Linked DNA regions of Homo sapiens. The gene in region 2 interacts genetically with the main gene of each other region. Each region holds a gene or a part of one and is shown on either strand. Other genes may lie near its edges. The genes, in order: PFAS, GTF2E1, CARS1, SLC39A9, COPE, PPIE and AURKA.

Region 1 (4,279 bases), on a different chromosome or scaffold from region 2:
GAACATGGTGGGTGTCAGCCAGTTCCATCCAGTTCAGCTGTCAGAGAGACAGCACAGAAAAGCTAGTCAGGGAAGACTCAGGGAAAGGGGACTGGAGGGCACTCCACTCTTTAATATATTGGAAATGGGGTCTGCAGGGTAGAGAAGGCAGCCCGGGCCTGAGACTAGACCCCAGGTTCCTTACCATCAACCCTGGGGACAGGCACATCCACCTGTAGCCCGCAATTTCCAGCAAAGGCCATCTCCAGCAGGCATGTGACGAGGCCTCCGTCACTGACATCGTGGCCTGAGCAGAGGAGGCGGTCTGGAGGAAGGAGAAGAAAGCTCAGCAACCTCGGGACCCAAACCTGACAGCCCCACCCCACCTTCCGGAGTCAGTCCATCAAGAGTGTGTGTCAGAATGTCAGGGGATCTGGGGTACATCGTCCATTGGAGTCCCTTTTGCCCCACTGCTCAGATGGTGAACGCCTGCTGCACGCCTGGCACCCTGTGCGCTATCTCCCCAGGGGTCTTCACTCACCTTTCAGCAGCCCCTGAGTGATGCTGAAGGCCCGCACCAAGTTCTCAGGAAGGTCCAGGTCTGGAGGGTGTTCCCCAAGCTGGGAGAAGCACTGGGCCAGAGCTGTGCCCCCGAGCCGGTGCTGCCCAGGGCTCAGAGCCACATAGAGCAGATGGCCTGGGGAGACGGGGAGGGGTGAGGGGAGGGGAACAGCTCAGGAGGACCCATCCCTGAGGGGCTCACAGCACTGCTATTCCCAGCATGTGGTGAGACACCTAGACAATCAGTCCCAGAAAACACCACAGCCCAGTGTTGAGATGGGGGCCCAGCACTCACAAAGCAGGAGCCAAACAAAGATCACACAAGCAAAGATCACAAAGGATGGGGCCATGTCCATACCTCTCCCTTCAGGATGCTTGAGGTCTGGGGTCACAGTGGCTGTGATGTCTGGGCAGACGGCATAGGCTGAGATGACCAGTGACCCTGTAGAGCAAGGAGGAGTCCAAAGGAATGAGTTGCCAACCCAGCTCCATAGTTCCTCCTCCCCTCCCTGGGGCTCCCACACCTCACCAGGAGCCCGCACGGTCTCAGTGCCAACCCGAGCAGCCATGCTGAGGGAGTCCTTGCCACCATCCACTGCCACACCCAGGGCTGCCATCACTGCCACCATAGCCTCACAGGCATCCGCCAAAGCTGCGCCCTCCCCTGGGAGCTTGGCTGCCCACATCCAGTTCCCGCTACACTTCACATCCTGGGGGTGGCAGAGGCACAGCATTAGAGGGGAAGAGAAATGTGGAGAGGCCAGGGGTGCAGGCGGACTGGGAGGTTGCAACATGAAATGAAGGGCTACAGATGGATGTGGAAGGGTCCTGAAGCCCGGGGGCTCCAGGATAGAAGCTGTGGGAGAACTCACCCGGAGGTCAGTGACCAGAGCAAACACCAGGTTGGTGAGGGCTTCGGCCACGGCCAGCCGGGCGGCGACTTTTGGGTCCAGCAGGCTCTTGACTGGCTGTTCTCCCAAGGCTGTGGCAGCCCCTATGAGCTCCTCATGGCTCAGTGCCACAACCGCTACATCTGCCAGAGGAGTTTGCAGGGGCCCCACGCACTGCTGCTGGGCCACCAGGCCTCCCACAGAGCGGTCCACCTGTGGAACCAGGTGGGGTTAGCAAGAGAGCAAGGGACAGGGACAGCCTGAGCTCCCGCACATGCCCCCAAGGCACTCAGGGCAGTGGGAGGCCTGTCTTTCCCCCAATGCAGACAACAGCTCTACTTAGAAGGTGGGTAGCAGGGAGACCAGGCCATCAGGGTGGCTGCCCTGCCCCTGCTGCTTCCTGCAGGGCCAGGCAAAAACCCCCACAGCACTTTCTAAGGGTGGGAGGGCAGAAGAGGCTGAGCGGAGGAAGGAGGCAGGGGGCAGAGGAAGGGTGCAGGGAGGACCTTATTGGTGAGGTAGCGCTTGCTGGCCACGGCGGGCAGCCTCAGAACCCTCTCCAGAGCCTGGTGCACGCTCAGCCCTGGGGGCAAGGCCAGAGGCTGCAGCATGGGGGGCTTCCTCTGCAGGAAGAACTCCTGCAACACAGACAGCGACAGGCAGTGTGAACACCTGGGGCGGGCTGGGCACACAGGCGACAAAGTGCACGTAGGGTAAAGGGTGGTGTGGAGAGGACCACAGGAAAAACCCATCCCCTCAACCCCACATACCTTCCGAGGCATCTTGCCCAGCACCCATTCGAGCTCCAGGTCCACAGGGGTTGGCAGGGGTGTCGGGGGGGCATCCCCCTGGCCATTTCTTCTGACAGGACACTCCCGATCGTCCACCAGCACTATCTATAGACCACAGGGACCCCACCCAGAGGGGATGAGACTATGAACACCAGCAAGGAATGTTCCTAGAAATCAGGGCACAAATGTGCTTTCCACTCCTTGTTTGGTTTCCATATTGAGTCCCTGCCCCTCCTTGGATCCAACATTCCCCACAGCTTGTTTGCCACTACCTCCCATCTTCCTCTCGTCTCTCTCCCTTGACAGCTCTCCCTCTAGCCCATACCCAGGTGGCTCATGTCTGCCCCAGTGTTTGCTCCCAACTCCCTGGGCCAACTCACTCTCCGGTCTCCAGTGATGGTGCCCACGAAGCAAGCCGGGCAACGTTCACGGGCACTGACATGAGTCAGGAAGTCCCGGTTGGGGGACCTCAGCAGAAGAGCATTTGATTCCTGGTACTCAGCCCCCCAGATTTCCAGGGCATTCAGGGTTGGGTCCCCAAGCTGCACAGCCACGGCGGGGAGGAAAGAGAAGGGCCAGTGGGCACTCCCACGTCTCATGTTGTTGCAAGAGAGATGGGTGGAAGCGGGCTGGGGCTGGCAGGGGTGGGAAAATGTCACACTTCAGGGGACGAGACCCACCTGGAAGCGGCTGGTGTAAATGATGGCTCCAGCTGGGTCACTCAGCTCTTTTAGGACATTGCCTGGTGAGAGGGTTGCAAGGAGAAGCAGTGACCTAGTGGTGGTCAGGCAACAAAGGGCAGTCCCTGGCCTCCAAAGGGGCCTGTAATTTGGTGTGTTCCTGTGTCAACTGCTGCCGCACCCTTACCACCAATCATCCCACGGCAGCAGGCTTCCACCCTTCCAACCCTGAACCTGTCTAGAATGTACAGAGCATGGAGAATGGGACCCAGAGCTGGGTGGTTGGTTGGAGATTCCTGATACCTCTCCCTAAACGAAACCTGGCAGGATACCAGGCAGGCCCAGTCTCTTGTTCCAACTCCTTTCCTCACCATTGCCACCAGCGCCCTGATCATGAAGGCTGCAGATGGGGTTTCCCTTGGGGGCCTCCACACAAGCCCTGATCACACGGTTCATCTTCTGTTCCATCTCCGGGTCTCCTCGCTGCACAGCCCCAAAGTCCAGGTCACTGGTGTTATCTCCCTGCACCTGGGGGCATATATGGCATAGCTCAGCTCAGCGAGACTGGAAGCTCCTATACGCTCCCCTATGCCTGGGGCCCGGTTATATCAAGGATTCTGCACCTTTAGCAATTCCCACTCACCTGCACAGATGAAGCAGCTCCACCTCCAACTCCAATCCTGTAGACGGGACCTCCAACCTTTACAACTTCCATGCCTGTAAGAAGGGAAGGCAGAATCAGAACACTGGGGAAGCCACGAGAAGAGGCCTCGAAAGCAAGGCAGCGTGAACACAGAGGAAGCTGATGTTAGGGAGAAGCCTGACCAGCTTTTTTTTTTTTGAGATGGAGTCTCGCTCTGTTGTCCAGGCTGAAGTACAGTGGTGTGATCTCAGCTCACTGCAACCTCCGTCTCCTGGGTTCAAGCGATATTCCTGCCTCAGCCTCCTGAGTAGCTGGGACTACAGGCGCCTGCTATCGTGCCCGGCTAATTTTTGTATTTTTTCAGTAGAGACAGGGTTTCACCATCTTGGCCAGGCTGGTCTCAAACTCCTGACCTCAGGTGATCCGCCCACCTCGGCCTCCCAAAGTGTTGGGATTACAGTCGTGAGCCACCCTGCCTAGCCCAGAAGCCTTACCACTTGACTGGGTTGATAGGAGAGTAAACTGATATCAACTACGGAGGACGATTTGGCAATAACAACCAAAATGACAAATGCACACAGTCTCTGATTGGGTAAATACACTTTGAGGAAGTCATCCCGCTGATTTATTTGCACAGGTATAAAATCACCTACTTACAAGATTAAACACCACAGTAACGTTTGTATTAGCAAGTACATGAAATAACCTAAAGGCTGACAACAGAGACCTCATTAA
Region 2 (4,279 bases):
AATATTTCTAATATGTATTTATTTTAACTTAAAGCCAAATTCTTTACAGCTTACCACCACAACTTGTACCCTTTCCTGGCAGCTTTAGTCTTTTTTGTTTTCACATTACACATTTGGGCCTACGTTATGGGGAAAGCCAAATAAATACCTAAAACCAAGAGTTTCTAGTCATCCTGAACATTGTCACAGGCTATTTTTTAAAATTTATTAACCATTTGTATCTAATCAATTCAATCTATTATGCTAAAACTCACACTCTTAAACATTACTTAACAGTCTACACCACTAGCCACACCTGGATTTCCAGTTTGGTTCTTATTCCCAAAGACAGGAATATGCATCCTTCCTTTCTGACTCAACTTACTTGAAAGATTAAAAGGGAACATGTAAGTACTTAGTGTCTGGCAAATAGTTAAGTACTCAAACATTTAGCTATAAAAGGCCCCATGTATGATTGATACATAAAGAACAAACAACCAAGTGATCTCTACTTCAACATAACACTAGATCCTACTGATACATTACCAGTATAATAATTTTCTTTACTGCCCCTCACACATAGCCAATAGCATGTAAATTATTTGTTCAAATACCCTAAAATACATCTTCTTATTGTCTAAATGCCACCTAATCTACATCTATCCCAAATAAGTGAGAAAGAGAGAGAAATGCAGCCCTTCACAGCTAGGAGGTGGCTCAGCACTCACAGCTAGACTGTGGCATTTTTCTGTCAAACAAGATCTCACAGATCACTAACATCAGACTATGATGGAAGTGAGGCAAACCCAAGCCACTGTGGAATTGCGTCTGAGAACAGACAAAAGCAAGGACTCCATGCAAACCACAAAAAATCCCATCTTGCACAAGTGACTGCTGCTTCTTTACCATTTAGTTTTAGCGTCACTCTGTTCTTGTCACCTCCTAGATAAGATTTATGAAGATACCCAATCATAGAATTATCCCCACTTCTTCACAGCATCCAATCCAAAGGAAACCTTCATCACTTCCCTGAATCCTCCCCAAAATTACCCAACAAAAGCCCACATTCTCTAAGTCTGTCCAACATCATCTTACCGACATTTCATGGTTTCCCCATGGTATGTGGCTTCCCTTGCTGCAGAAAGCATCAATAAACCTAACTTTGTTTACTACAGGTGCGTACCTGATAGCTTTTGACTAATGGTCACGAACATAAAGATTATAACTTAATCAACTGGACAAGAATACTATTATACCAAAGTAAAGAGAGGAAGAACTAGCTTTTTTTTTTTTTTTAGGTAAAAGATATCAAATTGCTTTAAATATAAAAATGAATATGTAAAAAGCCAACTAATTACAAATGCTAACAATTCAGCTCAAGAGAGGGGTTTAGACTACAAATTTAGATATGAGAATCAACAACCTATAGGTGGTAACTGAAGCCATATAGTAGATAGAAGCATCCGAAGAGATTAAGGAGAGTGAGAAGAAGCAGTTAAGGCATAAACTCAAGGAATGAGGAATCCTTGAGAAAGAGAAATGGTGCAACCAGAGTGACAGGATGGTGTTTCAAGGAAATGTATGGTCCTAATATTAAGAGGCCAACAAGAGTTGAAAACTAGCTTTTATATTTGGTAACAAAGGGTAAGAAGCAACCTTGGCTAGAAAGGTTTTAGGTAGAATGTTATCTTATATTATTCTCCAACTGTTCCAAGCTGTCTCAGCCTCTTCTCTTCAACAGAAGCAAGGAATATAATCATGTGGGGGCTTAAAAATAAACCACATAAAGTAGGGTTGAATATAGCTCTCGAATACCTGCTGAATTAAAAAACACACCAATGTGAGACTGGGACTTAAATTGACTGTTGAAAAATAAGCACCTACAGAGACTGTCAATGAGAACTAAGAATAGTTTGGAAGACAAGTTATCTAGTTCTGTAGTTTTCAAAATGTTTTTAAAGAAAGGAATCTCATTTCTCAAATGGAAAGGTGATTAATATATAAACATAAAAGCAAATGCTCTGGGGTAAAGTATAGAAACACAGCTAAGACAAAGGTTAATACTCCAACCCTCTCATTATCTGTTTTCAAAGCATCACAAACCGGCCTCCTCAATGTCTCCCATCAGGCACACTCTGCTGCAGAGCCTTTGCACTGCTGTGCCCTCTACCCAGATGCCTTCCCTCCAGAAAATCACATGGCTCATCTCCAAACTTACTTCAGTTCTTTACTCAGAAGCCACCAGTAAGGCCTTCTGTAGCCAACATTATCTAAAATTTCAACTGTCTTGTCCACCCAAACAATCGTATCCTCTTTCATTTTCTTTTCCCTTAGCATTATCATTATCCAACATGTTTTATTATTTATCTAATTTATCATTAAAAAGTCATGTTATACCCGAATTTTAAAAAAATGTCCTCCCAAATACCCCATTTCTCATTTTAAGACAATATGTACTCCAAACTTCAGCTTTAAGTAAACAAATCAACATGCTTGTCAGTGTAGCTCATCCTCATAAAACAGCAGTGCTTTTATTTGGGGAAAAGAGAGAAAGAGAACAACACTAATATCATTATTTCACAGAAGGACAATCTCAGAATGACAGTCCTTTAACTCGAGTAATTTATTTTCATGAAAAAGAATAGGGGGAAAAATAAAGTATATAGTCATAAGGCACCTAAATTCTAATCTCATCCAAACTTAACAGGAGTTACTTACAGAAGGGCTGATTTTGCAGGTATGAAAACAGCAGCTTTAACATTATTACTAAGAACTGTGAAGGGTCTGAGATTTTACCCTACTTGTAAGCTAACAAGTTATTCTGCCAGTTTCATGGATACTGGCAGAAGACACAAGACCCCAGGTCAGAGACAAAGAACTTCACTACTCAAGGAAATAGCAGTAGCCAGTGTCAGTATTTAAGCCAGTTCCCCATGCCCCAATTTCCATGGGGTGCGATAGAAGGGCCAGGTAACAATTACACATGCAATGGGTTGTGTTACAGGAAAGAGAGCCTGAGCTTAAAAGGAACTCAAATATTTTATAATGGGCATAAGCATGCCCATTCTTTGCACTGGAGGGTGGCATTATCCTTACTTACTATAAACTCTATGTAAACATGCTCTGGAAGGAGACACTTTTTATACTGGACCATAAGCAAACCTGCTCTTTGCTCTGAAGAGAAATACTATCTCTGTCTTGCAAGGCTGCTCGTTATATAAACATCCTTGAAAATGATAGTCCAGGAAAAAAAGCAGTCAGTCTGTATCTCTGCTTGCCAAGACATGCATAACATGTGAGAGACCCATGGAGAATAGTCTCCCAATAAATACCACATCTAGCAAATATTACAAAAGGAAAAGCTAGCCTGACATCTCTGAGCCCTGTGTTTATCACAAAAACATTAGTTATAAATGAGAAGCCTGTCAAAGCCAAATGTAGAATTTCTTATTTTTCTTCTGGGACCCTAAAAAATGCAAGAAAAGTAAGAAATTTGACATTTTACAGAAAATGACTTAAGACCAGTTTAATATACCAGCAGCATTTTTTATACATTTCACTACGCATTGTAAAAATGCAAATCAGTTTTCCTGAAATCAGAAGGGGCAAGTGGCAAGGGGCAGGAGGACACGGAAACCCAGCACATACTATGTAGCAAGCAGGCACCCACGCTACTGAGAGAGTGGTGGTGGCATACACAGACAGAACCAGTCAGCAAGAAGCTTTAGTAGGGAAGAAAGATGTCTGGAGATAAAACAATCAGGGATCAGTGCAAAAAATAAAGTACATAAATGTTTTGGAGTTCAAAGAAGGAATGTGACTTCTAGCTGAGGACACTAGGAAAAGCTTATTGAGAAGGTAAACCTTTTTGAGAGACAGTTTAGAAGATAAAAGATGAAGGAGAAGATGAAGGGGTAAGGGAACAGGACATTCTAGATCATCATAAGAGAAGTAGGGTGGTTGAAAAATGATGTTAGACTGCAATTTCAGTCTGATAGGAAAACAGTTATCAAAAAGAATGATAAAAAACAGACTTAACAAGATAAACTGGGGTGACCATAAATTGGTCTTGAATGATAAGCTTCATTTTGACTTTATTCTTTAGTAATAGGAAAGCCACAGAAGGGTGTTAGGAAAGACACTGAGGTCATGAAAACTAATATTTACATATATTGATCTGCCTGAGTGGCTTGAGATGGCCTCTCAATAAGGCAGTTCTTAACTGAGTGTCTGCATAAAAATCCCCAGTGGAATTTATACTCAGGCTCCATGCCACAAATGCTGATCCCAGAGGTCCAGA
Region 3 (4,279 bases), on a different chromosome or scaffold from region 2:
TCGCCCAGCCTTCCCTTAGTCTTTTCATGTGCGGGATTTAACGCTTGTTCCAATAAAGTTCAGAGGATGTAAGGGCCATCAACTTGGAGTGATAAGTGATAAAGGCCTGGACAAGCGGGTAGGCTGGTCAGTCACTGTGTGTTCGGCTTTCTCCAGGGTCGTCCGGGCTGGCATATCGAGTGCTCGGCCATGGCAGGCACCCTCCTAGGGGCTTCGATGGACATTCACGGAGGTGGGTTCGACCTCCGGTTCCCCCACCATGACAATGAGCTGGCACAGTCGGAGGTAGGTGAAAACAGAGTCCCCTTGTCAGGTGCAAGAGCACAGTGTTCATACTGCAGTGGAGGAAAAGTCAGCCCAGGCCTCAGAAGGGCCTCTCTCACTAGAACTTGACACCTTCATCGGGGCTTGTGGGTGGAATCTGAACCCTGATCATTTAGTGTGGTTTCCGCATTGACAGCCTGGCCTTTGGCAACAGACTAGCCTGGATTTGAACCAGTTGTGTTACCTGCTGGCTTATTAACCTGGGCTGTCCTTCCAAGCCCTGCCTGCACCACCTGGAAAACGCAGCTCCTGCCTGTGGACAGCACCAACAAGGCAGCAGACAGTGCAGGTGGCAGGAGGCGGCCCCAGTAACACATGACTGTTGACATCCTTTGTCTCTTTCCACGCAGGCCTACTTTGAAAACGACTGCTGGGTCAGGTACTTCCTGCACACAGGCCACCTGACCATTGCAGGCTGCAAAATGTCAAAGTCACTAAAAAACTTCATCACCATTAAAGATGCCTTGAAAAAGCACTCAGGTATACACTGGCTTCTCCCACAGACCCCCCAACCACCTTCTCATACATGTGTAATGGCTGTAGCACTCGGGAGAATAAGGGCGTTGGCTGTCTTGTGTCCCCCCACAGCACGGCAGTTGCGGCTGGCCTTCCTCATGCACTCGTGGAAGGACACCCTGGACTACTCCAGCAACACCATGGAGTCAGCGCTTCAATATGAGAAGTTCTTGAATGTGAGTCCCCAGCCCCTTCCTGGAGGTTGGTGGAGCAGCCTCCCCTGCACAGTGGGCACCTTGTGCAGTGGTGATAGGTGCACCAGCCTCCCGATGTCTCTAATGGAGACCAGCACATGGGTGGAAGCACCTCCATGCTAGTGGGTATAACAGGCTCGGGGCCACTCCTGAAATGGCTGACGGCTCAGCAGAGTGGACAGAGGCCTCGTCCTCCTAGTCACTGCAGTGCACGTCCTTCTGACTTGTACTTTCCACCAAATGAGCATCTGTAAACCTAAAGCAAGAGCATGTTTCTGTCAAAGAAATATCTTTTCCTTTCTTTCTGACCACTTGTGTAATTCTGGTCTTTCAGATTTTTACCAAAAATAAAATCACAGCAGTAGAAAGTTGTAACAGATATTTCAGGATGGAAAAGTTGCCTAAATGCTGTTAAACTGATTTTTCTAACTTCAGGAGTTTTTCTTAAATGTGAAAGATATCCTTCGCGCTCCTGTTGACATCACTGGTCAGTTTGAGAAGTGGGGAGAAGAAGAAGCAGAACTGAATAAGAAGTAAGGTGGTGCCATTTCTTTGGGGTTTTTGAGCATGCCCATGTTCTATGCCTAGCCTCGCATCTTGGCCACCATGTGTCCTGGACTGTCGAGGAAGGGCTGGGGACACTGTCGTACGTTGTGCAGAATTAATTCAGGATAGGCGGCTCTGCTAATGGGAGCTGCTCTGGGTGTTGAAGTGCATGGAGAATTTCTTTTTTGTTTTTTCTTTTTGAGACGGAGTTTCGCCCTTGTTGCCCAGGCTGGAGTGCAGTGGCGTGATCTCGGCTCACCACAACCTCCACCTCCCGGGTTCGAGCGATTCTCCTGCCTCAGCCTCCCGAGTAGCTGGGGTTACAGGCATGCGCCACCATACCTGGCTAATTTCAGATTTTTAGTAGAGGTGGGGGTCTCTCCATGTTTGTCAGGCTGGTCTCGAACTCCCGACCTCAGGTGATCCGCCCACCTCAGCCTCCCAAAGTGCTGGGATTATAGGCGTGAGCCACTGCGCCTGGCCACATGGGGAATTTCTATGGTGTGTTTTCAGGTCTGACTTCACATTCCTTCCTCTTTGTTGCTCAGCTTTTATGACAAGAAGACAGCAATTCACAAAGCCCTCTGTGACAATGTTGACACCCGCACCGTCATGGAAGAGATGCGGGCCTTGGTCAGTCAGTGCAACCTCTATATGGCAGCCCGGAAAGCCGTGAGGAAGAGGCCCAACCAGGCTCTGCTGGAGAACATCGCCCTGTACCTCACCCATATGCTGAAGGTAAGCCAGGCCCCAGGCAGGCGTATCCCTCAGCCTGTGTGGACACAGGAGCCAGGCCCCAGGACTGGGAGAACAGAGGCCTCTGGTGCCCCCCAGTGCTGTGCCTGGTGCCCAGCACCTCTGAGACGTGGAGATATGCTTCTGTCCTCTTTGGTTCCTGGTGTGCTTTTCACGCGTTAGAAATAACACCCATAAGCGGAGCACAGTGGCTCACATCTATAATCCAACACTGTGGGAGGCCAGGTGAGTGTATCACCTGAGCCCAGGAGTTCAAAACCAGCCTGGACAACATAGTGAGATCCCGGGTCTATAAAATATATTAAAAATTAGCCAGGTGTGGTGGCACACACCTGTTTTCCAGCTGCTTGGGAGGCTGAGGTGAGGGGCTCGCTTGAGCCCAGGAGGTTGAATAGTGAGGTGTGATTGCACTACTGCACTCCACTCTGGGCAATAGAGGGGAGACCCTGTCTCAAAACCAGACAAAAATAAGTAACATCCATATAGTTGTCCTTACTCAGAGCTATTTCTTTCCTTTGACTCCGTTTCCCTCTACTCCCATCTTGGAGTTTGAAAAGCAAAACCACGCCAGGCGCTGTGGCTCACGCCTGTAATCCCAGCACTTTGGGAGGCCAAGGCGGGCGGATCACAAGGTCAGGAGATGGAGACCATCCTGACTAACACGGTGAAACCCCGTCTCTACTAAAAAAAATACAAAAAACTAGCCAGGCATGGTGGCGGGTTCCTGTAGTTCCAGCTACTCGGGAGGCTGAGGCAGGAGAATGGCATGAACCCAGGAGGCAGAGCTTGCAGTGAGCCAAGATTGCGCCATTGCACTCCAGCCTGGGCGACAGAGTGAGATTCCATCTCAAAAAAAAAAAAAAAAGAGAAGCAAAACCAGGGACAAGGCCTCCTCTCTGAACACATCCTGTGCAGAGCCCTTCCCCGCAGTGCACCTTGAAAGGCCAGCAGGGCCTGGACTCAACTCCCCTCCCCTCTCCTCCTCTTTCCTTGTTGTTGGGCTCCAGTGGCTTCTGGCTGAAACAGAGCTGGAGAGGGTAGCTGTGAGTCAGGGCCATCCTGGAGCAATGAGGGCACCCTCAGGCTCGGGTTTCTGGGGCTCCTGGAGCTGCTGCTTCCATCTCTTTCCTGGTCTTGGGGCACCCCCTCCCGTGAACGAGGAACACAGCTCACAGCTGCTCGCCACATGCCGCCTTCATCTTGCCGCAGCTTCAGGTCCCATCTGTTTCTTTTCCTAGATCTTTGGGGCCGTAGAAGAGGACAGCTCCCTGGGATTCCCGGTCGGAGGGCCTGGAACCAGCCTCAGTGTGAGTAGCATGCAGGGTCCTGCCTTCTGCACCTGCTCCCTCCCCACTCCCTACCCCTCTGTGTCCCTCTGAACTGCCCCTCCTCTGTCTGCCCACCCACACCAGACCCTTCCGGACAGCGCCTCGAGCTAAATGGCAATTCTGGCTCTGAGAGTGCTAAGTGTGGTCAGCTGCCCTGCCGGTGTGGAGGGTCTGCTTTGGTTGTGACTGTTGGTTTGGGGCACTTTGCCATTGTGCTGTCCCATGAGCTTGGTCTTGGACCCCAACTACATAGGCCGCTGCTTATTTGCATTTTGCTGCGGCCACTTGGCATCATGAACACACATGACTTCGTCACATATACTGACCTGTATTCAGTAAATGCTTCATCGAAAGGCTGCAGAGCTCACAAACAGCACAGAATTTACACTGATGGGGAGATACGCCACTGTCTGCCTCGGTCCCCATGGGGCTGGGCAGATGCCCTAACAGGCCCAGTCCTGACCCTGAGCCCAGGTCGGTCCACATGGCCTGAGCCAGGACCCCCTGCCCCAGAGCTGTGGCCCACAGGTCAGGGGGAGGTCATCCTGTAGAGCCCCCTGTCTAGTGGGTCTGTGCGGTGAGAAAATCCATCCAGAACACCCTGGCAGTCTGTTG
Region 4 (4,279 bases), on a different chromosome or scaffold from region 2:
TTCAGCCTCCTAAAGCACTGGGATTACAGGTATAAGCCACCATGCCCGGCTCAAATCTTAGAATTTACAAATGAAATTCCAAACAGGTATAAAATCTCTTGTATTACCATAAGAGGGTAAGAGCAATGTACCAGACAATATAAAAGTCCTTAAAAATGTAACATTGTTAAATCTACTTCAAAGAGAACCTATTGTAGAGGCAGAAGCATACTGAATAAATCTGTTCTTCAGACACAATAAACCTTTGATTTGCGGGTAACTCAAACCCCTAAAGATACTTATTATGAATGAGTCAGTTATTATAATCAGACACTGATATGGTTTGGTTGTGTCCCCACCCAAATCTCATCTTGAGTTGTAGTTCCCATGCGAGGGACCTGGTGGGAGGTCATGCTGTTCTTGTGATAGTGAGTTCTTGCTGTTCTTGTGACAGTGAGTTCTCACGAGATCTGATGGTTTTATAAGGGGCTTTCCCCCTTTTGCTCAGCACTTCTCCATCCTGCCGCCCCATGAAGAAGGATGTGTTTGCCTCCTCTTCTGCCATGATTGTAAGTTTCCTTAGGCCTCCCCAGCTATGCTGAATTGTGAGTCAATCAAACCTCTTTCGTTTATAAATTACCCAGTCTCAGAAATGTCTTTATTAGCAGTGTAAGAATGGACTAATACAGACACAAAACTTTAAAACACGAAAGAACAAAACAAAGCTTAAAATGAGAGTAAGTATAATGAAGAAAAGAGAGTTAAATACTAAGAAAAATAGTATAAAGCAGGGAGGGTAGAGGAAAAGCCCTGGCCTCTCCAAATAGAATGGTAAATAGTAATGCAAACCAAACCCCACAACAAGACCTTTGGATTCCAAACAAATTGCCGAGAAGTTTCCATGACTGCGAAGGGGAGGAGGGGGAGGAGCTTCCCATTATTAAGTCTGTTTCCAAATAAAAGGTTTAACAATTATAAATTAGAACAAAGTTATAAAAATGAAAATCTTTACAAGTTTTTCTAATCAGTATTGAGAATCTGCCTCAATATTTTTGAAAGTTTTTATTATGTTCTAGACATAGTGTTAAGCCTGTGCTTATATTATTTCAACCTCACAACAATCCTAGAAGGTCATTTAACAGAAGAGATTTGGATTTTAATAGCTTGTTCAAGTAGTAACATTGACTTTGAATGATACTGTCTCAGACAGTCCCTTTTGAAATCAGTGCATTATTAATCATATTCATCTTTAAAATCATCCTAAGAATAGCACTACTTTCATCTGCCAACTTATGGATTTATGCTGTTGGTTATTTTAGGGAGTAGGTCTCCTTATGTTGCCAGTGGCTATTCACAGGCACACTCATAGCTCACTGCAACCCTGAACTCCTGGGCTCAAGTGATCCTCCCACATCAGCATTTGGAGTAGCTGGGACTAACCAGTGTGTGCCACTACATCCAGTTTTGCTGTTTTTGTTTGTTTGTTTTTTGTTTTTTTGAGAGGGAGTTTTGCTCTTGCTGCCCAGGCTGGAGTGCAATGGCGCAATGTTGGTTCACTGCAACCTCCGCCTCCCAGGTTCAAGCGATTCTCCTGCCTCAGCCCCCCAAGTAGCTGGGATTACAGGCACGTGCCACCACGCCCAAATAATTTTGTATTTTCAGTAGACACAGGGTTTCTCCGTGTTGGTCAGGGTGGTCTCGAACTCCCGACCTCAGATGATTCGCCTGCCTCGGCCTCCCAAAGTGCTGGGATTACAGGCGTGAGCCACCACGCCTGGCCTGCTTTGCTGTTTTAATACATGAAAAATGTGGCATTATAACTCAAACTGGTCTGCAATAAGAAAAGTATGGCAACTGAGATAAAGCCTTCAGAAATTTTTAGAGCAATATGATTATTACAATTATAGTAGTAATTTTTTATCTGTTGAATTTAACAATACATTTGGGCTTGTATTTTCTATGTCTTTTTTTCACTTCATTTTCCTACTATTTCATTTTTATAAGTGTATTGGTATGGATTGAAATAAAAATTAAAAACAAAAACTGATCCTTTACCAGGCAGTTTGAGGAATATTGCTGTAGAGCTCTGAGCCAAAAACAGCTTGCTCTCTGTTACCAGCTCTGTGACAAAGAGGAGACATACTCAGGTGAGTAACAACCCTCAGATAATCAATCTGAAATCCCACTTGAGCCATCTGTTTTTGTATCATAGCTCCATTTATCAACTGCAGCAGCACTGAGTTTATACTAGGTAATATAGGCTCTCAACCTACTTATGTAACATTGTTATTTAGAGCCAAAGAAAACTACTCATTAGCAATTCAATCGAAAAAACATAAGACAGTGTTAACTATAAACCAACGGGTCTCACTCCCTTACCAAACAGGGCTTCCTTTGTGTAAAGCATGCTTTGGCCTCCTTTATTTATTTATTTTTATTTATTTATTTTTATTTTTTTCTGAGACAAAGTTTTGCTCTTGTTCCCCAGGCTGGAGTGCAATGGTGGGACTCGGCTCACTGCAACCTCCGCCTCCTGGGTTCAAGCAATTCTCCTGTCTCAGCCTCCTGAGTAGCTGGGATTACAGGCACATGCCACCACGCCCAGCTAATTTTTGTATTTTTAGTAGAGATGGGGTTTCGCCATGTTGGCCAGGCTGGTCTCGAACTCCTGACCTCAGGTAATCCGCCCACCTCAGCCTCCCAAAGTGCTGGGATTACAGGCGTGAGCCACTTAGCACCTGGCTGGCCTCCTTTAAAAGTTAAAAGTGTTTCTCTTTCCTGTATACTGAAAAAATTTACATCCTGATTATCATAGTTACTTATAATTGCATTTGAGAATCGGATTTTTTTTCCTTTGTTTTATAAATTTTTAAGGCATGAAAGTACAGTTGCCAGGTCAAAGGGCAAGGAAGAAGGCCACAAAAGTATCAAGAAAGGTAGTTTTGGGGTGAGGAGAAACTGACAGAGAAATCAATGTCACATAAACCTCTTGGTGGGCACATCTGGCAGGTAGACCCCACCACTACTGCAATTTCAGACTACCTAATTTTAACTCGTTTTTAAATACTAATCTTGCCATAATTGATCATCTGACTTTTATTCCTGTTCTGAGATATTTTTAGAAAAAGTATTGAATGAGAAAGCAGCAGCAAGATTAAAAACATGAATAAAAAGCATATCTTTTCATGTAAATCAAGCTTGTCCAACTCATGGCTCGTGGGCCGCATGCAACCCAGGAGCACTTTGAATGAAGCCTTACACAAATTCATAAACTTTCTTAAAACATTATGAGTTTTTTTTTGCATTTTTTTTTTTTAGCTCATCACCTATCTTAGTGTTAGTGTATTTTATGTGTGGCTTGAGATAATTCTTCTTCTGATGTGGCCCAGGGAAGCCAAAAGATTGGACACCCCTGATGTAAACGAAAGTGAACTGTAAAACAGTAACACTAGCCTCTAAGAAAGCCAGACTTCCTTAAAAAGGCAAGTCATTTATCCAGTGTAGGAGTTTGGGGAATTATTTTCTAAGGAAAGAAATGGTGCTTTCCAGTCCCCCGTGAATGAAATTTATTTTTACAAATTTACCATCTCACTAGTTTCATTACAACATTGGTCCATAATAATGGCATAATTTACCTAGAAAATATGTTTAGTTCCTAGGAGATAGAAATCCTAGTTGAATTCTAGGATGTCTTTAAGTTATATATAACTTTCATTTTTTATTCTAATAGCTCAAAATGCATTGCATCTACTCTAATAATAAACAGATATTATGAATGCTGATTTTAGCATTTTAAGACCTACAGCTGGAAAAGACCATCTGACCGTCAATTTAAGAAAGCCACAAATGACATGACATACTAATTATCTGTATTAATGACCCAGTTATTAACACCACTCCTGTAAACATTTCCTTCTAGTGAAAAAGGAAATAGTATATATCCGCATATTGCAATAATCATTCAAGGTAGTTTGAAAAAATACTGGAATTGGTAAAGTTAAAGGCATTTTATAGAAATAAAAAGTTTTACTGGTTGCTTATCAGAATTAATTATGATTATTCATAAATGTTACTTCAATATGTTTAAAAATACACAAACCAACCCAAATCTCACACATGTCAGCCCTACTAATGTCAATTCAATTCTAATATAGTTATAAGAAAATATGGTTATGTCAAAGGAAACATAGCAGGTTCACAAAGTACTGGGCAGGCAGGTAACCCAAATAAGTGAAACAGGCTTCAAGGGCAAGGAGGACTGTGCCTAACAGCTGCTACTCAGCCCGACCCAACCTTTGCC
Region 5 (4,279 bases), on a different chromosome or scaffold from region 2:
CAAAGCCAAGGACTTGTGTCCTTTTAAGAGATAAAAGGAGGGCTGGGTGCAGTGGCTCATACTTGTAATCCCAGCACTTTGGGAGGACGAGGTGGGCAGATCACCTGAGGTCAGGAGTTTTCAAGACCAGCCTGGCCAACGTGGTGAAACCCCATTTCTATTAAAAATACAGAATTAACAGGATGTGATGTCTGTGATTCCAGCTACTTGGGAGGCTGAGGCAGGAGAATCGCTTGAACCTGGCAGGCAGAGGTTGCAGTGAGCCAAGATCGCACTAGTGCACTCCAGCCTGGGTGACAGCGGGAGACTGTCTTAAAAAAAAAAAAAAAAAAAGGAAAGAGGCCCACAGAGTTAAGCCCATGTGACAACAGACTGGAGTGACATGTCTGCTAGCCAAGGAGCACCACGAGTGGCCAGCAGCCACCAGAGCTGGGAGAGAGGCCTGGGACGGCCTTGCCCTCCAGCCTCCAGCTGGAGCCAGCCCTGCCGCCACCTTGACTTCAGACTTACGGCCTCCAGAGCTGTGAGGAACGAATCCCTGTTGTCCTTAACTGCCCGGGCTGTGGTGCTTTGCCACAGCAGCTCCAGGACATTGAGACAGGTGACCTCCCAGGGCCACTGTTTCTCCCACCCTGCACTTACTTCACCAGCTGGAGTGAAGGCAGGGAACCCTGGGTCCCCCAGGAGCAGCAGCTGCTGTGAGCATCACAGAAAAGCAGCCCCGGAGAGCAGGCGGTCCAGGCAGGGGCTTGTGGTCCGTTCATCTGGCTGCACAGCCGCGACCTCATTGGCAGGACGCCCCGGGGACAAGGAGCATCCATTAGTAATTGGTTTTGGTTTTGATTTTGTTTTCTTGAGATACGGTCTTGCTCTGTCGTTCAGCCTGGCATACAGTGGCACAATCTTGGCTTACTGCAGCCTTGATCTCCCAGGCTCAAGTGATCATCCCACCTCAGCCTCCCGAATAGCTGGGACTACAGGCACGCATCACCATGCCTGGCTAATTTGTATATTTTTTAGAGATGGGGTTTTGCCTGGCCGGGCGCAGTGGCTCACACCTGTAATCCCAGCACTTTGGGAGGCCGAGGCGGGCGGATCACGAGGTCAGGAGATGGAGACCATCCTGGCTAACACGTGAAACCCCATCTCTACTAAAAATACAAAAAAAATTAGCCGGGCATGGTGGCGGGTGCCTGTAGTCCCAGCTACTCGGGAGGCTGAGGCGGGAGAATGGCATGAACCCGGGAGGCGGAGCTTGCAGTGAGCCAAGATCGCACCACTGCACTCCAGCCTGGGCGAAAGTGCGAGACTCCGTCTCAAAAAAAAAAAAAGAGAGATGGGGTTTTGCCATGTTGCCCAGGCTGGTCTCAAACTCCTGGGCTCAAGCGATCCGCCCAGTAATTGATTTTGTTGCTGTTGCTTGTTTTTGAGATGGTCTCCCTCTGTCACCCAGGCTGGAGTGCAGAGGTGTGACCACAGCTCACCGCAGCTTCAACCTCCCGGGCTGAAGCCATCCTCCTGCCTCAGCCTCCCAAGTAGTTGGGACTACAGGCGCCACCAGGCCCAGCTGACTTTCTTACTTTTTTGTAGAAAAAGGGGTCCTACTATGTTGCCCAGGGTGGTCTTGAACTCCTGGGCTTAAGCGATCCTGCCTTGGCCTCCCAAAGCGCTGGGGTTACAGGTGTGAGCCACAGTACCCGGCCCCATTGGTAATTGTAACACCTTAGGATGACAACATTACAGTACCAACGCTACGACAACTGGCAGTGTTTATACACCCTTGTGTGCTGGAGCCTCAGGAAGCTTTGTAAGATGGTCTTGGGAGCTCCTTGCTCCTCCCCTGCATGATCCCTGTAACATGGTCCCTCAGCACGGGGAAACAGACTCAGACCTGAAGTCACTTGTCTGTTGGACCTGGCACTGTGGCGAGCCCTCAGTGGAGCCTGGTTGGTATCAGACATGCCATGCCCTCAGTGACACCTCAGACACGGGCCCTGGGCAGACAGCCCCCAGATGCGCGTGGATGCTTACGGGGTCACAGAGCCACGTTTGAACCCAGAAGAACACCAGCTTTGGTCTAGGGTGGCCCCCTCACCTGCCTTCTCTTTTTAGCTGCTCAATAGCCATGGGGAATGGAGGGTCTGGGTCCAGTTAGGGACATGGAGGCATGGGTGACCTGTGCCCTCGGAGCTGAGCCGGTCCTCAGCCTTGCCTGGGCTCAAGCCTGGCCCTGGCCCGCAGCACACTGGCCATCTTCAGGGTGCAGCCAGCACCCTGGGCTCTCAGGGACTGAGGGCAGCTGCCCTGGCAGTGGGGGTGCCCCAGGGCTCCCATCCTTCTGCACGGCCCCTCGGCACCCAGGCCGACCTCCTGCTAGAAGACGTGGCCTTGAAGCCCACAGGGTTGATGGGTTATGGTCAGGAGTCCCAGCTGGGCCCACCAGCCTCCTCAGGAAGGCGGGTGAGGTTGGTGTGAGACTGACGGTGCCTCCTCATGTCCCCTTGGAGCGCCCCACCCCACATCTCCCGGCCTCGGGTCCTTGCCTGGCCCAGCATGAGAGGTGCTTCATAGGAACGGAGGGAGGACATGTCGGGACAGCTCGATGCTCGGCCTGCTGCTGCTCTGCACCCCCAGGGCCTGGCTCACCCTCTCTGGACCTGTCTGCTTCCAAGGAAGGGGACCCTCTGAGGTCCCACAGAGGCCACCCCAGCTGTGGGTCGTGAGCATCTCTGTCTTGCAGGGACAGCATCGTGGCCGAGCTGGACCGAGAGATGAGCAGGAGCGTGGACGTGACCAACACCACCTTCCTGCTCATGGCCGCCTCCATCTATCTCCACGACCAGAACCCGGATGCCGCCCTGCGTGCGCTGCACCAGGGGGACAGCCTGGAGTGGTGAGTGGCCTCCCTGCTCTGGGGCCAGCCCAGGGAGGCAAGTGCCCCCTGCCACATCTCCAGGCTGCGCACGGCCTCGCTGGCTGTCGTCATGGGAGCAGAGAAAGGTGGTGCTGAAATGAGGCCCTGGCCTGCTGTCCAGGCTCCAGCTCCCCTGCCCAGTGTGGGAGGCACTCCCATCTGCGCACCAGGCTGCAGATCCAAGGACACGGTGCCCAGGCTGCAACCCTCTGTTCCCAAGGGCAGAGCAGAAAGCGGCTTTGTCTCTGCTCGGTTTCTGTGTCCCCACCCCCCACGAAGCCTTCTGTGTCTCGGCCCTGGGCCCAGTCTCTCAGGCCTCCCCGGGCCCCCCATACCGGCCCTCCTCCAGGGCCCTCTGGGGTTGGGGTGCTGAAGCCCTGCAAGGTTGGTGCCCCCCTCCACCCTAGGATGTGACTCCGGGCCATGTCCAGGGCACTGGTCACAGAAAGTGTGTCAGTTCTTCCCCGTGAGCTGTCCCTGCAGTGCCTGCCTTCCACTGTGAGTTGCAAGCTGGGCATTTCATGGTCGCTGTGGATCTGCTCCCATCCCACCTCCATCCACAGAGGGCTTAGAATTGCAGGGCGAGCCAGGCATGGTGACATGCACCTATGTTTCCAGCTACTTGGGAGGCGGAAGCAGGAGTATCCCTTGAGTCTGGGAGGTGGAGGCTGCAGTGAGCCGTGATGGTGCCACTGCACTCCAGCCTGGGTGGCAGAGCCAGACCCTGACTCACACACAAAAAAGAAAATAAATAGGGATGTCACACTGTCGGCGAGCCGGCCGACTCGGTGCTGGTCCAGGTGCTGGCTCCTGTTGGCAGGAAAACAAGAACAAGAGGCCTCACGAGTAATTCGTGGTCACAGCCACCTGGGGCTGAGAGGGATGAGGGGACGAGGGGGCCTGCAGAGAGTGGGTGGCCCCAGGGCTCTGCTGCAGGTGCAGGTGCAGGGGCGGGTGCGTGGCCCTCCTCTAGGGCCTTGTTCCTGAGTGTTGATGCCTCCAGGGTGTCGAGTCCGGGCAGGGCCCTCCATCTGGAAGCACAGCCCATGGAGGCTGCTTCTCCAGATGGGCGGTGAGTGGGCCGGGGCCTGAAACCCCATCCTGGGTACCTCCCCCAGAGCTCCTGGGCCTGAGGAAGCTGAGCGGTGAAATGTGGGAGTGAGGGTGTCCTCCTCTGCTGGGCGGGGCTGGTGGTCCTAAGCACAGGACTTAGGAACATCCCAGACACACACAGTGAGCCCTGGGTGTGGAGCGGCCATGCAATGTGTCTGTGGCGACCCGCTGACCGCCCCCTCGCCCTGTCCTGCAGCACAGCCATGACAGTGCAGATCCTGCTGAAGCTGGACCGCCTGGACCTCGCCCGGT
Region 6 (4,279 bases), on a different chromosome or scaffold from region 2:
TCTTGGATTCAGTTAATAGTCAGTGAAATGGTAAGTGAGGTGTTTCAATCACTTTATACTGGTCTGTTCTTTCATTAATTCATTTATTTAACAATTAAGTGTCTACTTGACAACCAGGTCCCTGTTAAGCCCTGGGAACACTGATGAGCAGAACATAGTCCAAGCTCTGGTGGAGCTCACAATCAGTGGAAAAGAGCCATTCAAAATGACAGCTATGACACAGTGAGGCCTGGTAACATGGACATTTGTCACGTAAGAGAATGTACATGTATATGTGTGTGTCTGTGTGTGTATGTGTACATGTATGTATGTGTGTGTGTGTCCACAATGACTCCTAAGTTTCTGATCAAGCGGCTAAGTGGATGGTGGAGTCATTTATTGAAACAGGGAAGAGGAGGAGGAAGAGTTTAGGGGAGAAGGCCAAGAGCTGTTTTAGACATGTAAAGTGTGAGATGCTCGTGGGATATCCAGTGAAGACAACAGGCAGGCAGTTGGACAGGAGTCTGGAGCTCAGGGAGCCATCAGCATGCAGATGCCAGTCTGCACAAACTTAACTCAGAGATACCGCTGAAAGCCCTGGGACCGGGTGTGACTGCTTAGGGCACTGCTTCTCAGTGGGGTTGGTGTCCTGTCCCTAGGAAACCTTTGGAAATCTGAATTTACTTTTTTTGAGATGGGGATCACTCTGTCACCCAGGCTGAGTACAGGAGTGCATCACAGCTCACTGTAGCCTCAATCTCTGGGGCACAAGCAATCCTCTCACCTCAACTCCCAAGCGGCTGAGACTACAGGCGTGCACCACCACACCTGGATAATTTTTTTATTCTTTTTTCAGTAGATATAGGGTCTCACTATGTTGCCCAGGCTGGTCTCGAACTCCTGAACTCACGTGATCCTCTGGCTTTGGGCTGCCACTTCAGACTCCCAAAGTGTTGGGATTACAGGCATGAGCCGCCGTGCCTGGCCTGAAAGTGTTTTTGACTGTCTGAAATATTGTGGGGGTGCTACTGGCATTTAGCAGGTGGGGGCCTGGAATGCTAGATGTTCTGCAATGTCTGGCACAATGAATTGTCTCATATCCTCTTGGCCCTTACAAACATCCTGCTAGAGGCTGGGCGCAGTGGCTAATGCTTGTAATCCCAGCACTCTGGGAGGCTGAAGTGGGAGGATCACTTGAAGCTAAGAGTTCCAGACTAGCCTGAGCAATATAATGAAACCCTGTCTCTACAAAAAACTTAAAAATTAGCCTGGCATTATGGATGGCGTGCACCTATAATCCCAGCTATTTGGGAGGCTGAGGCAGGACTGCTTGAGCTGGAGAGGTTGAGGCTGCAGTGAGCCGTCTTGCACCACTGCACTCCAGCCTGAGCAACAGAAAGAGACCCTGTCTCAAAAAAACAAAAACCAAACAACAACAAAACAACAAATATCCTGCCAGATATTGGTATAGGTAAAAAATGTGTTTACAGTTATCTGCACCTAAAACATAATTCCATTATACATATAAGCCCAAAGTTTTGGAGTGCTTTTGATTTTCCATGGAATCTTCTAGGAATGTAACTACTATGTAAATAAACAGATTATTCTTTACTTTGGACTCTAATCAACTTTATCTACCATTTCACAAAGCCGTATCACCAATAGCATCACTCCTAGTGGTATCCAGTTGACACTCCCGTCTGCATTTCTAACTGCTGCGTTTGAGTACAGGGGCAGACGCCTGAATAATTCACTTTGTGTTCTGACACAGCTGTGCTTAAGCATGTACATCTGGAAACATATTCGAGTATTATACAAATTCGTTTATTTCCTCTGATGTTCTTCCCTATTATAGTTACAGATGAATACTGATTTTTAAAATAACGATGTGGGTCAGTGGGCTATATCACCTACACATGTCAGTTCAGTATAGTAAAGAGGGGCCCTACAAACCACCAGTTAGAAAAACGGAGCACAGGGTAACAGGCTTCTGGAGAACCAAAGAATGGGCTCTGAGCCACTTCAGTGTTTAAGGGTCAGGAAAAGAAGGAGACAGCAAAGACAGAAAAAGCAGCCATCTAGGTAAAAGGAGACAAGAAGAGGCAGGAGTCCTGCCAGCCAAGTGAAGAAGGAGTCAAGGAGAACAGAGTTAGTACAGGCTGAGCATCCCAAATGTGAAAATCCAAAATCCAAAATGCCCCAAAATCTGAAACTTCACGAGCACTGATATGATACTCAAAGGAACTGCTCACTCGAGCATTTCAGATTTGAGATATTCAGATTTGGGATGCTCAACTGGTAAGTATAATGCAAATATTCCAAAATACAAAATACTTCTGGTCCCAAGCATTTCAGGAAAGGGACACTCAACCTGTAGTATGAAATGCTCCTGGGAGGTGGGATAACATCTGGGAGGTGGGATAAGATGATCGCCAAGAACTGGCTACTCGTATTTTTGGCAAGAGTGGTTTCAATGGCGAGATGGGACTAGAAGTCTGCCTAGAAGGGATTAGAGAAAACGCGAAGGCAGCAAGTCTGTACCATGTTTTCAAGAAGTTATGCTTTTACTTCTTGAAAAAAGATGGGGGACCAGGGGCATGGGTGATAGCTGGAGAGGGAACAAGAGTACAAGGATGAAGTTTGTTTTTTTTTTTCCGAGACGGAGTTTCGCTCTTGTTGCCCAGGCTGGAGTGCAATGGTGCGATCTTGGCTCATCACAACCTCCGCCTCCCAGGTTCAAGTGATTCTCCTGCCTCAGCCTTCCGAGCAGCTAGGATTACAGGCACGCGCCACCACGCCCGGCTAATTTTATATTTTTAGTAGAGATGGGGTTTCTCCATGTTAGTTAGGCTGGCCTCCAACTCCTGACCTCAGGTGATCCGCCTGCCTCTGCCTCCCAAAATGCTGGGATTACAGGACTAAGCCACTGCACCCGGCAACCGGATGAAGATTTTTTTTAAAGGTTGATAACTGCATGCTTTCATGCTAATGGACTGATCTAGCAGAGCAGGGGAAATGGATTACAAGAAGGGGACAACTTTAGAAGCCATGTTCCTAAGTAGAGGAGAGGGACAGGATCCAGTCCACAGGTGGAGAGGCTGGCCTAGGAGAGACAGCTCATCCCCTGTAATTGGAAGAAAGAGCATGCACGAGTGGAGAGATGCAGGAGGTGAAGCATTAGATGAGGTGGGAAGGTGATGATATGAGGGCTTCAGAAGTGAAGACGGGCATGGACACATCATCTCCGGTTGGGACTGAGCATCAAGTAGGGAAATCTGGTCAGGTTGGCAAGGGTCCCCTTAAGAACTATAGTTATAAATTTCAAGTGGGATTGTTCAGTACAATTCTGTGTTTTTTCTCTAGTTGCTGGGGGACTAACCACCGAGATTTTACTGAGTAAATCTGATGGTGAGGGCAGGGAGAGCAGTGGGGTTGAGAGCATAAGAGCCTGCAACAGCAGACCACAGAATCCAAGCGGGGCTAATAGGAATTGTGGACACGGTTGGGGGATGAACAGTACCTGAATGTCAACAAGCCAACTCCACCCTAGCAAGGCTGCATGGTTCTCCTATGTCTGGTGGCTGGGTCTCCTCCAGACTCTTAGTGTCCGCCAGCCAGAACTACAACCTGTCCTTCCATCCTGCCTGGCCATCCCACCCTTGCCCAGCCTCCCTCGTCACCACATGCCAACTGGCTCCTACCTGGTCCCGTATGCTTGAGGATAAAGTTTTCATCATCGAACTTCTTCCCATAGATGGACTTGCCCCCAGTGCCATTGTGGTTTGTGAAATCACCGCCCTGGCACATGAACTGGGGGATGATGCGGTGGAAGCTGCTTCCCTTAAAGCCAAAGCCCTTTTCATGAGTGCACAGGCAGCGGAAATTCTCTGGAATTGAGAAAGGAAAAAGCGCTGGGGTTAAAAAATAGGACAAAATAAAAAACCTCGAAAAAACTTTGGTTTAGTGTTCATATTTTTGTTTTAAAATAAGAGATACTCATTATAAACCTTTGTGATACTAACCTTGTAAGGACTATAAGGGATTCTTTTTCCTTGAGACGGAGTTTCACTCTTGTTGCCCATGCTGCAGTGCAATGGCACAATCTCAGTTCACTGCAACTTCCACCTCTTGGGTTCAAGTCATTCCCCTGCCTCAGCCTCTTGAGTAGCTGGGACTACAGGCATGTACCATACACCTGGCTAATTTTGTATTTTTAGTAGAGATGGGGTTTCACTATGTTGGCCAAGCTGGTCTAGAACTCCTACCTCAGATGATCCGCCCACCTTGGCCTCCCAAAGTG
Region 7 (4,919 bases), on a different chromosome or scaffold from region 2:
CAAACCCAAGGGTCAATTCCACCTTCCCCGTACTTGCATCCTCAGCAGAATCTGACAAGGTTGATCACATCTTACACTTTTTTCTTCACTTCACTTCCAGGTTTATCTACCACCTAGTCGTCCTGTCTTTCCCTCCTTGCTGGGTCAGTCTCATTTTTGCCAGATCAAGGGTCTGGGGTGACTCAAGAACGAGTCCCTGGACCCTCCACTTCTCCATCTACACCTTCACCAGGGATCCATATCACCCAGTGCCTCAGCTCTAAATGCCTTCATGAGGACCACTCAAAGTGCGTCTTCTGCCCTAGTCTCTCCTTGGACTGTCAGACTTGGATATCCAAGGATTTGCCCAGGATCTCCCAAAAATGTCTGCCAGGCACCTCAATCCTAACATATCCAAAACTGAACCTCTTCCCTTCTCCACTTCTCACCTCCCTGTTCATGGGTGTGCCCTGAGCTCAGGCCTAGAATGACTTCTCCATCTCCAATTACTCCCTAGCCGAGTACATCCAGTCTCTTTGCTTTCAGTACCATCTACAGGCTGAGGACTCCCAAATATTCATTCTTCAGCCCAGACCTCTCCCCTGAACTCTTGATCTACATTTTCTACTTTCTATGCAACATCTGCACCTGATTATCTGAGCGGCATCTCCATTCTAACATGTCCCAAACAGAAGTCCTAATCTCTCCCCACTCTCACCTCCCCAAATCTAGTCTCTAGACATCCTCATCTCAGTGCATGGCAAACCCATCCTGTCAGTTGCTCAGGCCAAAAGCCTTGGCATAATAACCCTTTACGAGGTTCTCTCTCGCAAACCCTTCATTTAATCCACCAGCATATTCTGTAGGCTCTGCCTTCAAGATCACTGCTCACCACCTCTACTACTACCACCTGGTCAAACCATTATTCTCTCTCCCTTGAGTTTTTTCCAACAGCCTCCCAATGGCCTCCCCACTTCCACCCTTACCCTGTCATGGTCCATTCTTAACACTGAGGCCGGCAATCTCATTAACAAATCAGATGTGTTGATCCTCAGTTCAGAAGACCCCCATGGCTCCCAACTCAATCAAAACAATGCAAACTCCTAACCTGCATAGACAGGCCTATTGAAGTCTCACAGAACATGGACCCTAACTACCTCTCTGACTTCATCTCCTCTTCTTGTCAACCGTGTACCAGCCACACAAGGCTTTCTTTCTGCAAATAAGTCCCCTGCCATAAGCATTTGCACTTCTTGCTCCCTTTATTACGCTTTTCCCCCAGGTGTGTAGTTCAGTCTTTCATTTCACTGAGGTTTCTTTTTTTTTTTTTTTGAGATAGAGTTTGCTCTTGTTGCCCAGGCTGGAGTGCAATGGCGCAATCTCGGCTCACCCGCAACCTCCACCTCCTGGGTTCAAGCAATTCTCCTGCCTCAGCCTCCAGAGTAGCTGGGATTACAGACATGCACCACCACGCCCAGCTGATTTTGTATTTTTAGTAGAGACAGGGTTTCTCTATGTTGGTAGGGCTGGTCTGGAACTCCCGACCTCAGGTGATCCACCCACCTCGGCCTCCGAAAATGCTGGGATTACGGGCATGAGCCACCGCGCCCGGCCTTCACTGAAGTTTCTTATCAAATATCCCCGCACTCTGGCCTGGGCAATGGAGTGAGACCCTGTCTCAAAAAAAAAAATTAAGATTACCATTTTACAATTAAGCAAATAATTCCATGATGAAGCCAGGCCCAGACTACAGGCTGCAGCCCTTATAAAAAAACAGTGGGTAAGTAAAAGTTGATAAACAGCAACAAGGAAATGCACACTTGTGTTAATCAAATATTTAATTTCACACATGCTCTAATGCTTTACTTCCCTTACAATTCTAAGTAGCAGTCTAATGAGATCACATAGGCCTAACAACATTTATTCAACATTCTTCTGACAGAAGCTACAGGCATTTGCTCCAATTTATTCTACCTTTCTTTCTAGGGAAATTGAATAACAAGCAGAATGGAATAAGATTCTAATCCAGAATTCTGGAGACAACGCCAAGGAGACTGCCCTTCAGGTGACTCTAATCTGCAACCAGATTGAAGAACCAGATGACTTTCACAGGATCCATTCAGTTCAAACCAGAAGTCCTACTATTTTGAATAGAAAAGCTGTTAGGCTAATAGCGCAGGAGGTTTATACGGTTTATTCCTTCCTCCCTCAGACCTGTGCATGTCTGCAGAGATGAAGGGAAGGACGAACTGAGTAGGTTGCTGAAAAACGTTTAATTCAAGGGACAAGGAAGGTTACGGAAGAGGAAGAGACATTACGAGAGTTAAGGACAGTGGCTACGTCTACCTCAGCCGGATGGTTCTTAGAAATGGAGACTCTGAGGCCTAACCCCAGGTCTAAAAAAACAGATTCTGCATTTTAACGTCCCCAGACGATTTGTATGCACCGGTCTGCATCCCTAGTTCTCAATGAAACCTAAGAATCATCTGGAGAGTTTGTTAATAACTAGACACCTGGGTCCTACCCCTCAGAGATTCTGATTTACCGGGCTCTCGGTGGAGCTATATGTTTAACAAGCACTGCAAGTTATCCCGGTACAACTGCTCCAAGGTCTACGGTCTGAGAAGTACGGACCGGGAAGGCCTCTGCAAGGAGGTTCTCATTCATCAATTCACCCACTCATCCAGCCAGGACAAGGGCCTTCTTAGGCTATTCTATCTAAAGCGGCCCCCGTTAAACCGCACTCCTGCTTTTCCTCTGTAACACCCACCCCAGCTGCAAGTTCTCCGTACGCTTACCGTCTGTCTCCCCACCCACTAGAACGTGAACTCCAACACAGCAGAGACCTTCTGTGCTTTTCTTACCCAGGTGATCTCGGAGGACAAAATCCAATCTGAAGCCCACCCACCCCTCCCGCGCATGTCAACACCACTCAACAAACCCCTTGTACCTCTAGCTGTAATAAGTAACAAGCAGTATCCTACAGGGCGCCTCGGTGCCCAGGAGCGGATGCAAAGGCGCTGGGCGGGCACAAGGCAGCGCCAAGGACACTCAGGGACGGAGGAACCGACAGGGGACTTGACGCTCCGCCACTCCGACCAGCCGCCCCTTGTCCCCGCCGTCCTCGTCCGCCACTGAGATATCCCCCACGGTCTACCCACCCGTCGGCTCCCACCTGCGACCCAAGGACCCAAGTCTTCCAAGAGCTCAGCCGTTAGAATTCAAAGGTTCTTCTTTTTAAATAGGAGTTAAACCCTCTAGCTAGAAAGCCGATTGGCCTGCGCTCGAGCGAGGCTGCCTTGTGATTGGTTGACAACAAACCCGACGCCTTGAGTCGCGTTTAAGGGCGCACACCGCGCGCAGGCGCACTTGCTCCCTAAGAACCCGGAAGTGGTGGAGCCAACGGCCAGCCAGACCTGTGGCAGTCCCAGCCCCAGGGTGCTCTCCGCGGTCGGCCATTTATCGGTGAAGCAACAGCCCCTTGACGTCAAGCTTGACGCATTGGAGATAAAGTCCAAGGAGGTGAACTAACCTTTGAACGTGCCAGTAAGTAAGATGGCGAGAAAAGCAAGAGAGAGTGGGACCGATCGATAGCGCAGCGGTCGGCTTGGCGCCCTTTCAGCGTGCGCAGTGAACGTGCGCTCGGAGCGGTAGATTGGGCAGGATTCGCGCCTCCATTTTTCCAGGAGAGAGCGGGATACCAAGAGAACCGGACCAGCTGGTACTGGGACACGGGGAGAGTAGCTGGTGCGGTCGGCTGGGGCATTTAGAGAAAACCACAGAAACGACTGGGGCGAGACTGGAAGAGTCGAGAGTTAGCAAGGTGGCATGCGCCTCTACTTTGCGTTTCCTAAGTTGCCCGGCTTGGCCTGCACCCCTTCCTCTTCTCGAAGGGCCTCGCTTCCATTCCCACCCAGTCCTTAGTTCGCCTCTGCATCCAGATGGTCGCGGCGCATATAGTGAGGGGGCATCTGTGTTCTAGCCTTTCCAACTGCGATGTATCCGGTCCTGGATCGGGTTCTTGTCCTCGTGTGCTCACCTGCAAATTGGGGATAATTAGGCTTCTGTTTACCTGGCGAGTGAACGTTCTGTGGGAGTTGAGAAGTTAGGGGTGGGCCACTTAAAATATATATATATATACACACACACACACATATACATATATATACACACACATATGTGTGTGTGTGTGTGTGTATGTACACCCGGGATGTGCTCAGCAGAAGTGAAGAGACCGGATAGAACAGTGGTGTAGGGGAACCAAAAATGGCTTCCCTCCATCCTTCCAGGTACCTTATTAGGACTAAGAGTTAAATTCACATAAGACGAATTAACAGATTACTGCAGGGTAAACAGGATGTGCATGTAAAGCATTGAGCTAGCATACGGAAATTATTCGAGTCATATTAACCCAACGTTAACAGTAGAATCTCTCATCAACTTTTCTTTGCCAGACTACCCACTTGTGATTTTCATTCTTTATTGGTACTTAAGAATCTCCCATTTTTTTCGGGTAACTGAACATTGTCCATGGGAGAAAAACGATATTTAATTACGTACAGGAGTCCCACAAAATACGAGACTAAAAGTTGAAGTCAGATGATTAAAGCCTACATGGCATCCTGAGCTACTGAAAGGAATGAATAGAGAATTGGGGGCGGGGGGCGGGAAGCAGCTCTAACACAAGTTATGGGACGGTGAACGGAGGAAATGTATGGTGAATCAAGTTTGTTATGCAGACAGAATAGGTGATCTTCTGGGTGGTGTCAGCCTCTAATCTCTCATGTGATCCGAGTTAATCTTCCCTGGTTTATAAGGATTCGTGACAATTGAGGTATTTTTGGAGGGTCAGACTTTAGGCAGGTAAGGAAAGCACAGGGAAAGCCTCTTCCCGCCTGCTGTTCTCCAGGTGCCCTCAGTTCAAGGTAATCAGCCCGCCA

Evidence for each region.
Region 1: changes in GTF2E1 (region 2) and PFAS together harm fitness less than expected from each alone (positive genetic interaction), as found in Homo sapiens cells (one large-scale study listed by BioGRID).
Region 3: changes in GTF2E1 (region 2) and CARS1 together harm fitness less than expected from each alone (positive genetic interaction), as found in Homo sapiens cells (one large-scale study listed by BioGRID).
Region 4: changes in GTF2E1 (region 2) and SLC39A9 together harm fitness less than expected from each alone (positive genetic interaction), as found in Homo sapiens cells (one large-scale study listed by BioGRID).
Region 5: changes in GTF2E1 (region 2) and COPE together harm fitness less than expected from each alone (positive genetic interaction), as found in Homo sapiens cells (one large-scale study listed by BioGRID).
Region 6: changes in GTF2E1 (region 2) and PPIE together harm fitness less than expected from each alone (positive genetic interaction), as found in Homo sapiens cells (one large-scale study listed by BioGRID).
Region 7: changes in GTF2E1 (region 2) and AURKA together harm fitness less than expected from each alone (positive genetic interaction), as found in Homo sapiens cells (one large-scale study listed by BioGRID).

Annotation. Positions count from the first base shown.
Region 1 is NC_000017.11:8,262,259-8,266,537, reverse strand, and holds part of PFAS (phosphoribosylformylglycinamidine synthase), read right to left. Parts: intron 3,619-4,279; coding exon 3,545-3,618; intron 3,430-3,544; coding exon 3,273-3,429; intron 2,964-3,272; coding exon 2,902-2,963; intron 2,764-2,901; coding exon 2,602-2,763; intron 2,327-2,601; coding exon 2,201-2,326; intron 2,069-2,200; coding exon 1,937-2,068; intron 1,644-1,936; coding exon 1,413-1,643; intron 1,251-1,412; coding exon 1,070-1,250; intron 983-1,069; coding exon 899-982; intron 677-898; coding exon 521-676; intron 305-520; coding exon 185-304; intron 38-184; coding exon of another isoform or gene 15-37; exon of another isoform or gene 1-14. UniProt on the Homo sapiens protein: Phosphoribosylformylglycinamidine synthase involved in the purines biosynthetic pathway. Catalyzes the ATP-dependent conversion of formylglycinamide ribonucleotide (FGAR) and glutamine to yield formylglycinamidine ribonucleotide (FGAM) and glutamate.
Region 2 is NC_000003.12:120,766,193-120,770,471, reverse strand, and holds part of GTF2E1 (general transcription factor IIE subunit 1), read right to left. Parts: intron 1-4,279.
Region 3 is NC_000011.10:3,015,145-3,019,423, reverse strand, and holds part of CARS1 (cysteine--tRNA ligase, cytoplasmic), read left to right. Parts: intron 1-156; coding exon 157-285; intron 286-674; coding exon 675-804; intron 805-883; coding exon of another isoform or gene 884-912; coding exon 913-1,016; intron 1,017-1,469; coding exon 1,470-1,567; exon of another isoform or gene 1,568-1,568; intron 1,569-2,128; coding exon 2,129-2,318; intron 2,319-3,574; coding exon 3,575-3,643; intron 3,644-4,279. UniProt on the Homo sapiens protein: Catalyzes the ATP-dependent ligation of cysteine to tRNA(Cys).
Region 4 is NC_000014.9:69,401,242-69,405,520, reverse strand, and holds part of SLC39A9 (zinc transporter ZIP9), read right to left. Parts: intron 1-4,279. UniProt on the Homo sapiens protein: Transports zinc ions across cell and organelle membranes into the cytoplasm and regulates intracellular zinc homeostasis. Participates in the zinc ions efflux out of the secretory compartments.
Region 5 is NC_000019.10:18,905,574-18,909,852, reverse strand, and holds part of COPE (coatomer subunit epsilon), read left to right. Parts: intron 1-2,740; coding exon 2,741-2,893; intron 2,894-3,917; coding exon of another isoform or gene 3,918-3,986; intron 3,987-4,223; coding exon 4,224-4,277; intron 4,278-4,279. UniProt on the Homo sapiens protein: The coatomer is a cytosolic protein complex that binds to dilysine motifs and reversibly associates with Golgi non-clathrin-coated vesicles, which further mediate biosynthetic protein transport from the ER, via the Golgi up to the trans Golgi network.
Region 6 is NC_000001.11:39,748,490-39,752,768, reverse strand, and holds part of PPIE (peptidyl-prolyl cis-trans isomerase E), read right to left. Parts: intron 3,867-4,279; coding exon 3,681-3,866; intron 1-3,680. UniProt on the Homo sapiens protein: Involved in pre-mRNA splicing as component of the spliceosome. Combines RNA-binding and PPIase activities.
Region 7 is NC_000020.11:56,389,014-56,393,932, forward strand, and holds the start of AURKA (aurora kinase A), read right to left. Parts: upstream 3,203-4,919; 5' UTR 3,155-3,202; exon of another isoform or gene 2,778-3,154; intron 1,653-2,777; exon of another isoform or gene 1,543-1,652; intron 1-1,542. UniProt on the Homo sapiens protein: Mitotic serine/threonine kinase that contributes to the regulation of cell cycle progression.